3 separate regions of the Homo sapiens genome follow, and regions 1 and 3 are each linked to region 2. Evidence: fine-mapped expression QTL. A gene starts in region 2. Each other region holds a variant in brackets. All regions are shown on one strand. Distances are between the middles of the regions.

Region 1 (4,127 bases), 110 kb after region 2:
GTCTCTGAGCTCCGGCCAGCCCTGAGGCTCCCAGGCTCCCGTGAGCCCCTGGGATAGCACTCCAGGCTCAGCCTTCAGGACTGGGTTGCACAATTTAAAATTAATAATCGCGCTGTCTCGTGGCCTCATAATTAAGTGTCTGTTCATCCCCATTATTGTCAGAGAGTGATTTGTTGTTCTCTGGGCACTGAAAATCAACCTGCTGAAGGGAGGGGCCTGCGAGCCTTCGGGACAGAGCTGCCCGGGGAACACGGTGCACCCACCTCCCCCAGGGGCCCAGAGGAAGGGGCCCAGCTCCACGCCTCAGGCTGGGGACCCTCGGCCTCCGCTTACTTACCAAACACTCTGGGGGCTTGGAGGTGGCTCTGGGACTCTCCCATTGCCTTGGGGGCTGCCAGGCAGAGTGCGAGGAGGGGCAGCTGCTTGGTCCGATCCCGGGGCTTGTTTTCCAGCAAGCCTGGCCCGGCTGCCTCAGGCTGAGACTGTGAGCAGATGCGGAATGCTCCCGGGTGCTGTGTTCACTCTTGTACCCCAACGCGCCTGTGCACACAGACACACACACGTGCACATATGCACACACGGGAACATATTAAGACTAAAGGCGTCTCCAGGCGTCTCCTCTTAGGAGTCCCACTTGCGGCTCAGCTTCTCTATCAGGAGGGGATGATGATCCCATGCCTTCCCCTACTTCTTACGCATGAGGTTCTGCTGAACGATGGTAGAGCCAGCAGCCTGCCAGTCTGTCTCCAGGAGCCCCCAGCCCAAGCGGGCCCCATCAGGCGGGGCACTATGAGGGTGGGGCCACCTCGCTGGTCCCTGCATCACCTCTTGACTGTCTGGGCCCTACCTGCTTCCAGCGAGCAGTGCCCTGGAGTCGCCTCCTGTGACACCTGGCTTGTGAGTCGGGTCCCCGGGGAGCAGCCCCTGAGGCTCTGAGGGACTCTGGGAATCCCAAAGCTGGCCACACACTCCCAACCCAGGGAGACTCCCCACCCAGGGAGGGGCGTGCTCATCATTTGAGAAAAATCCAGCAGATGCTCAGGTCCTGGAGGATGTGCAACCCCAGCCCTCCTGCACCAACGCCCCGCGCTCCGCCCGGCCCCAGAGGCCAGAGGATGGGCGGGGGCCAAGGACGGGGGCTGCTCATGGCAGAGATCACCTAGGGGTCCTGCCTCAGGATCCTGTGGGCTCCCAGGGGGACCCATACTGGAGGAGGGGATCCACTCTGGCTTGTGGTCCCCAACAGCAGAAAGAGGGGCACCCCCTTCTGCAACGCCACACAGTTTCCCTTGGGACCAAGGATCCTCTGACAACTGGCCTGTGACCACACGGGCCCGAGCTCACGGGGGCCAGTGTCAGAACCCGGCGTGGAGTCTGGAAAACCCTTACATCCCAGAGTGACCCAAGGTCATCCTGCAACCACGCTTGCCACCTGCAGACATAAGACTGGGCAGGGATAGGACTGTTTAATTTTCCTTTGGGCATATTTATTTATTTATTTATTTATTTGTTTATTTATTTTATTATTATTATTTTTTGAGATGGAGTCTCTCTCTGTTGCTCACGCTGGAGTGCAGTGGTGCAATATCAGCTCACTGCAACCTCTACCTCCCAGGTTCAAGTGATTCTCCTGCCTCAGCTTCCCGAGTAGCTGGGATTACAGGTGCATGCCACCATACCCAGCTAATTTTTGTATTTTTAGTAGAGATGGGGTTTTGTCATGTTAGCCGGGCTGGTCCTGAACTCCTGACCTCAGGTGATCCACCTACCTCGGCCTCTCAAAGTGCTGGGATTACAGGCATGAGCCACCGCACCCAGCCCCTTTGGGCATTTTTAAAATCGGGGCTAAAGCAGATAAAGGAGATTTTTTTTCTAAGGAGGAGAAAATGCAAAGTCATGAGCTAACAAAAGAATTTGGTCAAACGTGACCTTCTAATAAGAATTGACGTTAAAATTATGGTTTTAGCCATATTTCCTTTCAGGAGCAGTTAAAGACGCTTTTTGAAGGTGAGAAAATTAATTTTTGAGTTTATATTACACACTGTAACACAGAGGGCTGTGCACACGGTGATGACATTAACCGTCACGTACTTGGCAGAGGCAGTGTGGACTCTGGCCGGATGGGATCCCGGCTTGCTGGGCCTGGACAGAGGGGCTGCACCCCCATGTCTCCAGCCAGGGGAGGGGCAGGGGCCCAGGCCC[C/T]CCGGGAATGGCAGTGGAGGGCTGGACCACCAGAGGCCCCGACCAGCTTGTCCGAAAGGGTGGGCTGCTCGGAGCCTCCTGTGAGTACCAGGCCGAACGTGCAGGCGAAATTCCAGTCACGTGTGGGGCTTGGTGCAGGCTGGGGTCAGGGGTCAGGGGTCAGAGATGCAGCCGGGGCCTCCATCAAGCCTGGGTTGGTGACCAGGGAGCTCCGGGAAGTCCCTGGCTGCCTGGGAGCCGGTGCTGAGGACCCGGCACGGCACCCCTGCACTGCTCCAGGCCTGTCAGAGCCAAGGGCCTGTGTGTGCACCAACCGCCCACCGCGTGCCCCCCAGGCTGGCCCTGGGTGCTTCCTCCCAGGAACCCCCCGAGGCGGGCGCCATGGACACCCTCATTTTCTGTGGAAGGAAGCAAAGGTTCAGGGTGGGGTGTTTTGCTCAAGCTCACGCTGGGCAGGGCCAGCATTCCTGCCCTGCCCATCTCACCCTGAAGCCAGATCTCCTTCCCCTCCCTGGGCCTCAACCTCCCCACCTGGGAGTGGGGCAGGCCAGGTCCTCTAGGCCCCCTCCAGTCTCGCCTGCTGCTGGCACTGGCTGTGGCAGGGGACTAAGCTGAGGGGGCCCCAGGGCAGACAGGGAGGCTGCAGGGGCCCGGCCACAGCCCTTGGCGCCCCTCACCCTCCAGCACCGCCCCTGCAGGCCCTGCACTTGGCTCCGTTCTCAAACACCCCTTGGCACGAGTGAACGGCTCTCGGTCCACTTCAGAAGAAGCATCCTGCCGGCCACGCGGACACGAGAGCCTGAAGCACCGATGGCATTTCAGACCTGATGCCTGCGCAGGGACACAGGGACATTCGGGACGTGTCCAGCTCCACACCAGGCCCGGGAACGCAGGATGAGGAGGACAGCCTGGGCTGGAGGTGCAGGTTGGGGAACAGGCCGCTGCTGTTGGCCCCCACAGGCTTTCAGACCCGTTCTCTGGACCTAGGAGAGGGGGAGGCCGAGTGCCCAGGCCAGCTGGGGGCAGCACGTGGAGGTTGTGAGCATGGGTTGGCTCTGGAGTCATGGCAGAGGGCTGCGCAGGTGCCAGCATTCAGGAGGAGCAGGAGGAAGGGGCCTACCCCAGGGAAAGAGAGATGGGGGTAAGCGCAGCCCTCAGCGCGTCCTTTCTGATTGCCTCCGCTGCCTCGTGTTCACCCGAGTCCCAACCAACACGTGAGCAGAGCGCTTCACAGGGGTCAAGAAGCTTGAAGCTTGGAGACTGACCCACCCGTGTTCAGCAGCTGGGGGAGGAGACAGCGTCAGCAAGGCCGCATGCCCAGGACACAATGGCGGGTATGGGAGCCCTGGCCAGAAGGGCCAGGCCAGGGCCCAGTGGCGGGTGGCGGCTTATGGCCTTCCTTCTGGTAGAAGGGGGAAAAAGGCAGGGAGAGGAGGCCGACACCACCTCCAGGAAGCTCTCCCCGCCTGATTCCCAGGCTCTCCCAGATAAGGCGGGACACTAGGAGGTGAATTTTAGGAGACTTTCCAACAAAAAATAGCCTAATAGGCTTTAGCATTTATTTATTTATTTATTTATTTATTTATTTATTTATTTATTTATTTATTATTGAGACAAGGAGTCTCACTCTGTCACCCAGGCTGGAGTGCAGTGGCACAGTCTTGGCTCACTACAACTTCTGCCTCCCAGGTTCAAGCGATTCTCCTGCCTCAGCCTCCTGAGTAGCTGGGATTACAGGCACATGCCACTAGGCTCGACTAATTTTTGTATTTTTAGTAGAAAGGGGGTTTCAACATGCTGGTCAGGCTGGTCTCGAACTCCTTACATCATGTGATCTGCCCGCCTCAGCCTCCCAAAGTGCTGGGATTACAGCCTTGAGCCCCGCGCCCGGCTGGCTTTAGCATTTAAAGGTTTAAAGTTTCAGG
Region 2 (4,127 bases):
AAGGGGAAAAATCAAGTTGCAAGGCCGTGAGAACTCAGGCCTGGATCCCGGATGGGGCCTCCCTGAGCTGGAGACCCATAGCAGCGGTGCTGCTATGCTCAGTTGAGACTGTGGCCCCCAGGCCCTTGTAGCAGCCAGGAATCAACAAGATCAAATGCAGGGAGGAGATGCGGAGGATGCACCCGGGGTGAGCCCCACTCAGCCCAGGCCCTGCTGGGGACCCCTGAGTGAGCCCCAGGCTAAGCTGTAAAACGGGAATAAGGCTGGGCGCAGTGGCTCACACCTGTGATCCCAGCACTTCGGGAGGTTGAGGCAGGTGGATCACCTGAGGTCAGGAGTTCAAGACCAGCCTGCCTAACATGGTGAAACCCCGTCTCTACTAAAAATACAAAAATTAGCTGGGCGTGGTGGCACGTGCCGATAATGCCAGCTACTCGGGAGGCTGAGGCAGGAGAATCGCTTGAACCCGGGAGGCAGAGGTTACAGTGAGCTGAGATCGCGCCACTGCACCCCAGCCTGGGCAACAGTGTGAGACTCGGACTCAAAAAAAAAAAAAAAAAAAGGAATAAACAGAGCTCACCTCATGGTACTGTTGTGAACGTTAAATGCGGTAAGGTGTACATACTCAGTAGCACGGGCCTGGAATTCAGTAGGGATGCAGGGTTTGCTTTAAAAGGTGCAAATATATGTTGGTGTACATACGTATAGGCACACAGAAATTGGGGAATTGATTTCTGCTTATCCGCTATCTTCTAAACACTTTTCAATGCTTTCCAAATATCCTTCACTAAGGAAGAATGTCTTTAATATTTAGAAAATAAAAGTGATTAAAACAATCATTCCCATCCCTGGAGGGCCACGGGTCCTAGTGGGTAGCCCCTTGAGGCCTGCCCCAGGGCTGGAAGCAGCTCCAGGCATCTGTCTCTGGGATTCACGATTCTCAGGGGCTTGGGGTAGCTATGCTCACTGAGAGATCCTGCAGAGATTGTAAAGTCAGGCCTAGGAAGCACCAGAACCCTGAGGCTGCTGAGCTCATGCCCTGGGTGTAGGAGGCACTCAGAACCCTCCTACCCCACCTCCTTCCCACAGTAGACTGCGGGGCGGGTTTGGAAGTGGCAGTGGTGGGGGGAGGGGGGTTGGGGTGTGGGACCTGGGACTGCATTTAGGTCTAGATGGGACTCTGTGGGGAGAGCCCAGAGTCCCTGCGGGGTTCCATACTCACCCCCATACAAGGCAAGCCAGGGAGTGAAGTGTGTGTGTGTGTGTGTGTGTGTGTTCTGGACGCAGAGCTGAATAGAACCTAAAGTTGGGGTCAAGGGCCAGTCTGTGGCCAAGATCAAGGGCCTAGCTTGAGGTTGGGGTGACAAGAACCTGGCCAAGCTTCTGATGATTTGTCCAGGGAATGACCTTGGCTGACTGTGCCAGAAGGGCTGTAGCCCCAGGTTTCTGATCCCCAGAGCCCCAAAGGCGTTCTCTGGGATGCTGGTGGCCATCTCCTTCTCAACCCTTCTCCCAGCGCCCTCGCTCGGGACCACTGAGGCGGTATCACTCCATTCTCCTGCAAGGACCCTTGAGCGTGCTGTGGGAGTGAGGCTGGCTTAGCCTCTGAGGACCACTGCAGCCTGTCCTGACCTCAGGCCCCAGGTTAGGGGGCAGCTGAGGAGGGGTCTCTGGGTCTTTCCGGGTGTGTGGCCGTTTTATTTCCGTGCCCTTGTTTTAAAACTGCACCTCTGTCCTCAGGAGCGTGGCCTTGGGCAGATGGAGAGCTGCGTGGCCGGTGCCGGAATGACTGTCAACGCCCCAGTGCGCCCGGATCACACCAGGCCTGAAGGCAGCGCCAGGCCCAGTCCAGGCAGCTTGCAGTTCCCGGGCCGCAGGGACGGGCGCCGGAGCCCCGCAGACGTTCGCCCAAGGGCGCTCCCGTATCCTCGTCTTTCACGGCCCGCCTGAGCGTCCAGGGCGGCTGCGGATGCGCGCACTTCCCCCGCCCGGATCCCGGAGGCTGCACCGTGCGGACGCGACTGCCGCGGGCAGGGCGCGCGCCGGGGGCGGGGTAGGGGGGCCCGGGGGCTCTCCCGGGCTTAGCGAGTCCGGCCGAGGCCGGGGCCCGGGGAGGGCGGAGGGCGGCGCTCCAGGTCCTTTCCCGACCCGGCCGCCGAGCTCCGTCCTCTGCGCCGCGGCGTCCGGCTCCCGCCGGGTGTCCCGCGCAGGGTCGACCGCCGGCAGCTCCGGAAGGAGGACGCGCGAGGGGCGAGGAGCTGCCGCCTCCCCTCCCCAGCGCTCGGGGTTCCCCACGCCCCGCCGGCCCCCACTGGGGACCCTCCCGGCCCCCGGACCCCAGCCCCGACCCCGGGAGCCCACCTGGCTGCCAGTGCGCGCGCGCGCGCGGCCGGCGCGCTGTCCCTTTAACGGCCCGCGGGCACCTCCCCCGCCGCCGCCCCGCCCCCGCCGCGGTGCGGCCGCCGGTGCTGGGCGAGGTCGGAGAAAGTCCATGGGAGCCGGAGCGCCGGGACGCCAAGCACTTCCTGCCGCGGGCGGCGCGCCGCAGCTGCCCAGGCCGGACCGGGCCGGGCGCCCGCAGGTACCGCCAACTTGGCGCGCGCGGCCGCCCCCGGGTTACGCCGCCGGGCGGGGTCGTCCCACGGGCCGGGCCCGCACTTCCCGCAAACTCCGCGGCCGCCCAACTTGGCGCGAGCCCCCTGCCGCAGTGCCGGCCGCGCGGGGCGGGTGCGGCCGAGTTCCGCGCCGGCCCGGGCGTGCGCGCGGGAACCGGCCTCGGGAGCCCGCGGAGGGGGGCCGGGCGGGGCCGGGGGGTCCCGGCGGAGGCGCCCGCGACCCCGGGCCGGGACGCCGCGCCGCGCGTTCGGGGAGACCCCGGCTCCGGGCGTCCCGGGGCGCTCCCCGCCGCCTGCTGGGTTTCCCTGGATTTCTGGGGACCCGCGCGGCCTCCCCAGGGACCCGACTGGCCGATCCAGCCCTCCGGGTGGGGAAGCCGGGGCAGGACTGGCCCGGGGCCAGGGCGGAGGTACCCACCCCTCCCGGCGCATCTGCGCAGCTGCCTGGCCCAGCCGGGCCCGCGCCTCGCCCTCCCGGTCCAGGTGGGCCCGTTCGTGGGTCGTCACCGCCTCCCGCGCCTCCCCCACTCGGGCCCCAGCCTGGGGAGAAACTGGGGTCCGGCCGCAGGGGGAGGGGGCTCTGCCTCTTGCCAGCTTCTGTGCCTCTGCGGAGCTGAGGTCGGGGGGCCCCAGCTCCTTCTCTAAGAAACTCAGCGGAGCCCGGGGCCCGCCGCGCACCCCGCACGGCCAGGGCGGACCGAGGCCTTCCGACGGAGTTTCCTGCTTCTCTTGCTGGGATCGTGTGGGGTCGGAGGTCAGAGGTCACCTCCCAGCCCCTCTGCCAGGCTCTGGGGGAAGTTTGGTCTTGGACTCTCGTCGTGGAGCCGCTTAAACCTGTGGGTCTGAAGGCCGCGAGGCCGGGTCCCTGGAGTTGGCCTCCCAGGCCGTTCCACTCCCTCCCCCAACCCCCGCGCGGGGCCTCCGGATTGGAGGTGTTTCACCCACGTGCTGGTGGGCCCGTCTCCCTGGGCCGCTGGGTGCCCTGAGCTGTGTTCTCTGCTGCGCGTTCCTTCCTGTGTGTGGCGGGGGTGCTGACCCGGGGGTGCCCAAGGCAGCCCGGACTCCCATCCCGTGGAGCTGCCTCCGGGAGCGCGTGCACCTTGGTGTTCCCGCCCGCCAGCGCGGCCGCACTCTCCTGCCAGAGTCCGTGTCCCTCCAGGTCGCCCCTTCTTCTCACCCACCCCTCTTTTCGTCTGGCAGGCTCCTGACCTCCTTCCCTCCTGTTCTCCAGTGGGACACTCAGCTCAGCATTCTGCAGGGTGTTTTAGCCTGTAGCACCCCCCAGCAGGGGCGCCTAGAGTTAGGTCAGGGTTCAGGCAGCCCCCGCCCCACCCGCCACCTCTCAGCCACCCACCCCTTCTTCTCCCGGCCACCGTTGGAGCACCCCTCTGGTCCTCTGTGGGGCCTTTCCCAGCCCCTCCCTTAAAGAGGCCTCTTGGCGTTTTCCCCTGGGGTCACTGTTGGGTGGTAGCTGGGCCAGAGTCCAAGGGGAGGAAATAAAAGGAGCTGCCA
Region 3 (4,127 bases), 48 kb after region 2:
TGGCCCAGGGACCTGCCCCAGGGTTCACGTTCCCCGTCTGTGAAGGGCCTGGCGCCACGCGGTGTACGGGAGGACCCGCCTACTTCCCCTTTAACCTCAGTCTGCGCCTCACCCGGCCAGGTCTAGAGAGTCCCCTGAACCCAGCCCCTTTGCCACCACCTCTCCAGGCCCCGCGCCAGGGATGGGCCAGGAAGCGCCCAGTGTGCTGAGCCGAGTGAGCAGTCGCTCCCCCTCCTCTCCGTTCCTTTCTTTCAAGGAGGGCTGCTCCCCGTCCTGGGCCCCACAAACCCAGGTTGCCCTAATTGGAGATTCCTGGTTACAGCCTCTGGAGACTGTTCAGGCTTTGCTGGGCAGAGTCCCACAGTTGGTGCCCAGGATCGGGTGTCCCTGCAACCTGACTGTGTGTCTGGGCTGGCCACCTGGCTGGTCTGCATGCAGGGCCTGTGTGCAGCGGCCTGGGCCTGGGTGCGGGTGCATAATGCCAGCCACGGGCAGGTGGTGGACCCCGAGGGGCAGTGTAGGGACTCTCTCCACCCCACCACGCATATCCCTGTGCCCTGATGGGACGCCCCCCTGCCCTTCCCCTCCTGCAGTGCTGGTTGGGGGCAGAGGGGGCCAGGACCACCCACCAGCTTGGACCCCTAGGCCAGCTGGGTCCCTGTGCAGCGTCTGTCACCACAGCCGGGACAGCAGGGTAACCACTGCTTTGGCCAACCTGGCTCCCTCTCCGCCTGCAGGAGAAGCCACTGCCTTGCCAGCAGGTGCTCTGGGCTCCGTGGTGTCTTCCTGAGAACTCCGCACTTGGTTTAAATGTATATTGCTGTGTTTGCATGAATCCCACAGAATGCCAGCTCACAGGCCACCTCGATCTGGGCTTCACAGCTTTTGTTTTCTTTTAGTGGTAGGGGGTAGGGCTTGATTTGTCCTGAGACTGGGAGCTTTGCTAGCTACGGAATTGGCCCTTCCTGAGGGCAGAGCACACCGGGCTCCGGCTCACCACAGAGGCCGTACAGGATGTCAGTGCTTGTGGACCCGGCTGGCTGAGGCCTCCGGGGAATCCGCCCCATGTGCGCTTTCCCTCTGCCCCTGCTGACAGCCACCCCAGGGAAGGCAGGGGACCAGCCAGAGGCTGCTGGGGAAGGCTCCCAAGGCCCACCCAGGGCCCCTGTTGGGAAGGAGCTCTGTCCATGGGCTCCAGTCCCAGGGCAGAACCCCAGACAGGCTGGGCACCCCTACAGTCCCTGAGGACATCCCCCATTGATGGCAGCCAGACAGTGCCCTGCCGACAATGGCAGCCAGACAGGGCCCTGCCGACGGGTTGCCGACGGGTCAGGGAGCTGCACCATGGAGATGGAAACAGACCCATCGTATCCAAACATCTTCCCAGGGTCCTCCCTGCACAGCCCCCTGCTGCTCCAATGTGACCTTGGGCCTTGGTGTGTTTGGGGTGATGGGAGCCAGGGCTGGGTGTCGGGTTTGCTGGGAGCACGGTGAAGCCTCGTGACTTGTCCCATGCATCTGCCCCTGGGTGCTGGGTCAGCCTTAAGCCCTCACATCGCCTGGACTTCGTGAGCTAGAAGCCCTCACGCCCACCTGCCTTGATGGGTTTTTGGGGAGTCAGCAGGACCGCAGCCAGGAAGCGGCTCTGTGGAGTCCCGGATGTGTGTTGGGTGGGGACGGGAGGCAGCTGCTCTGGTGAGTCCTTCCCTCCAACTCCCCCGTACTCAGACCACACGAGGTACAGTCCCATTGGGGCTGAGGGGTGGGGACACCCTCAAGGCCATGTTCCTGCAGGGCTTTGTCCAGGCCGCAGGTGCTGCGCGGCATTCTCTGCCTTTGCACGGGTGTCGCTGATGCCAGCGAGGTGGAAAGTGGGCGGCTGGGAGGCCAGGCCTGCTCCCGCCCACCTACCATACAGTTTGGCTCTGGATGCCACAGTCTGGGTTTCTTGTCATGGTTTTTCTGTTCGGCAAGCCCATAAGTGGGGCAGAGAAAGGGGGTGTGTGATTTCTTGGTTAAAATCTAGGTTACTGGCTGTGACGTTGCTGGCGTCGCTGGGTGTGCTGGGTTGGCGGTGCCATGGGGGGAGCAGGTAGAGGGAGGGGCCGTCGCCTGACCTGGAGCTGCCCCTGGGTGCTAGCTCCCCGTGCCCTCCGTGTCCCGGGCTCGTCCGGGGAACGTCCTCACACCCACGCAGGAGGCTGGCTGCTGCCCTCGCCAGGCCGTGCAGGAGTGGAG[G/C]CAGGTAGCTGTCTCTCTGGGCTGGTAGGACTAGCGTGTTCTAAGGTCCCTGCAGGCTGAGCTCCTCCTCCTCCCTGGCCTCAGTCTCCCTACCTGTTGAGTGAGAGGCGGGCCTGAGCGATTGCCGAGGGTCCCGGAGCTGCACCTTGGTGTGTGGTAATGCGTGTGCCTGTTCCACCCTCTCTCGCGTTAAGAACCATGGACAGTTTGTCCTGTAGGGCTGTTCTCCTGTTTTTGAAATAAGTCAAAATATTACAGATAAAGTTAATTGCCTTTTGTCCCCGGCACAGCCCCCGCCCCATGGTCTGTGTGGCCTCACGGCAAGGGTCTCCATGCGGTGTCTGTCTCGTGCCTCTCCTCCCTCCCTCCAGGTCCCGCGTCACCACCCGTCAGAAGGAGCCGCCACGTTTGATTTCTCCAGTGCCTTATCAAAGGACATTCAGGTTGTTTTCAGTTTGTTGCAGTCAGGAGCAAAGCTGCGAGAAGGCGCCATGCATGGGTGTGTGAGGTTGATGGGGCCGAGTTCAAGCCCCCCCACCCGCAGCGAGGCAGGCCCCGTCTCGGTCCCCATCAGGTGGACGCTGGCTCGGGACGCTCAGTGCTTCCCACCCACCAGCCCTCATCTCTGCAGCAGTCACTTCAGGGCGCCCTCCTGGGCCTTAAGCCATCACCCCTGCGGCAGGCAGGGACCTTCCTCCTGGCCCTGTGGCCGGCAGCCTCGGGAGACCCCGGAGCAAGATGAGCTGGGGGTGGGGTGCACCCAGGGGTGAAAGAAAAACATCGTATCCACCGGAAGGGAAACGCCCAGTGCAGTTCCCCTCTGGCTGATGGGGAAACCTCCCAGAGGGTGAGGCGCAGGCGTCCCTGCCTGGCGTTGTCAGGGGCCTTGCATCTGAGCTAGAGATTGCGAAATGCCTGCCTCCGCCTCCCCTGCACCCCCATCCCTTCCCGCCCCACCACGGGGGTGAGTCAGGGGCCAGCCCCTCCAGAGAGCAGGAGGTGGGCCGGGCAGAGGGAGCCTGTGCCTTGGGACTTGGTGGTGCTGTGGCCTGAGCGGGAGCCCCTTTCCTCTTCGGGCCCTCTTCCTCGCGTACCCGCCTTCATTCCCCCAGGGTGCGGCTGCATTCCCGCTGGGGCTCAGGGCTCGGGGGCATCTGAACGTCCAGCAGGGACACCGGGAGCCGGGGCTTCCCCGGCAAGGCAGCCGGCCGGGTGGGCAGCGCCAGCTGGGGCTGGGCTTGGGGTGGGGGCTCCCCAGCTGCGCTCAGGGGTCTGTTCCCGTGGTCTCCTTGGCACATCTGGATCCACAGGTCCCTGCAACAGCCGAGACGGTCATGGCAGCTGCTTTTACCCCAGGGCAGATGACAGCACGGGGCCCTGACGGTTATTTCATTGAGTGGGGGTGGCCGTTGTCACCCAAGCTGAGGACGGGCACCTGTGGCATGGCAGACCGCTGAGGTCGAGGGACAGGGAAATGGAGCTCGCAGAGGGAAGGGGTAGTGCCATGCTGGGGCTTCTCTCCTGTCCTCTGAAGGGGAGGGGGCTGCCCGGACCTGCGCCCACACCCCCTCCTGTGCCTGATGGGGCTCGCCCGGCCATCCCTTTCATGCCCTCAGCAGTGGCTTCGGGCGGGCAGATGTTTAATTGCAGCTGGCAGATGTCACTCTGTGTGGCTGGCAGAGACAAAGCCACGCCTGGGTATTGACACCAGCTGCACACTTCCACGGTAACCCTTTCCCAGCAGGGGACAGCTCTGGCCACAGGGCCCGTGGGCCCGTGACGGTAACCCTTTCCTGGCAGGGGACAGCTCTGGCCACAGGGCCTGTGGGCCCGTGAGTGGGTGGCCCTGTGCATGTCCGCTTCCCCTTCCCTTCTGGCTCCCTCCACCC

The links. PIP is the estimated chance that this variant, and not a neighbour inherited with it, causes the effect.
Region 1: its variant is the best candidate, but not a certain one, in a credible set for the expression of NACC2 in whole blood (INTERVAL, PIP 0.52).
Region 3: its variant is the best candidate, but not a certain one, in a credible set for the expression of NACC2 in whole blood (TOPMed, PIP 0.72).

Annotation. Positions count from the first base shown.
Region 1 is chr9:135,984,998-135,989,124 of GRCh38, reverse strand. No RefSeq gene overlaps it. Among named protein-coding and RNA genes, the nearest start is that of UBAC1, 26 kb to the right of the region's middle. The variant C/T (reference allele first, on the strand shown) is at 2,203.
Region 2 is chr9:136,093,643-136,097,769 of GRCh38, reverse strand. NACC2 (NACC family member 2) reads left to right here and starts at 2,481. Exons shown (of 6, transcript NM_144653.5): 1 at 2,481-2,581. RefSeq lists silencers at 2,019-2,118, 2,439-2,568 and an enhancer at 3,774-4,127.
Region 3 is chr9:136,045,247-136,049,373 of GRCh38, reverse strand. All of the region lies in intron 2 of NACC2 (NACC family member 2), which reads left to right. Among named protein-coding and RNA genes, the nearest start is that of NACC2, 48 kb to the left of the region's middle. The variant G/C (reference allele first, on the strand shown) is at 2,239.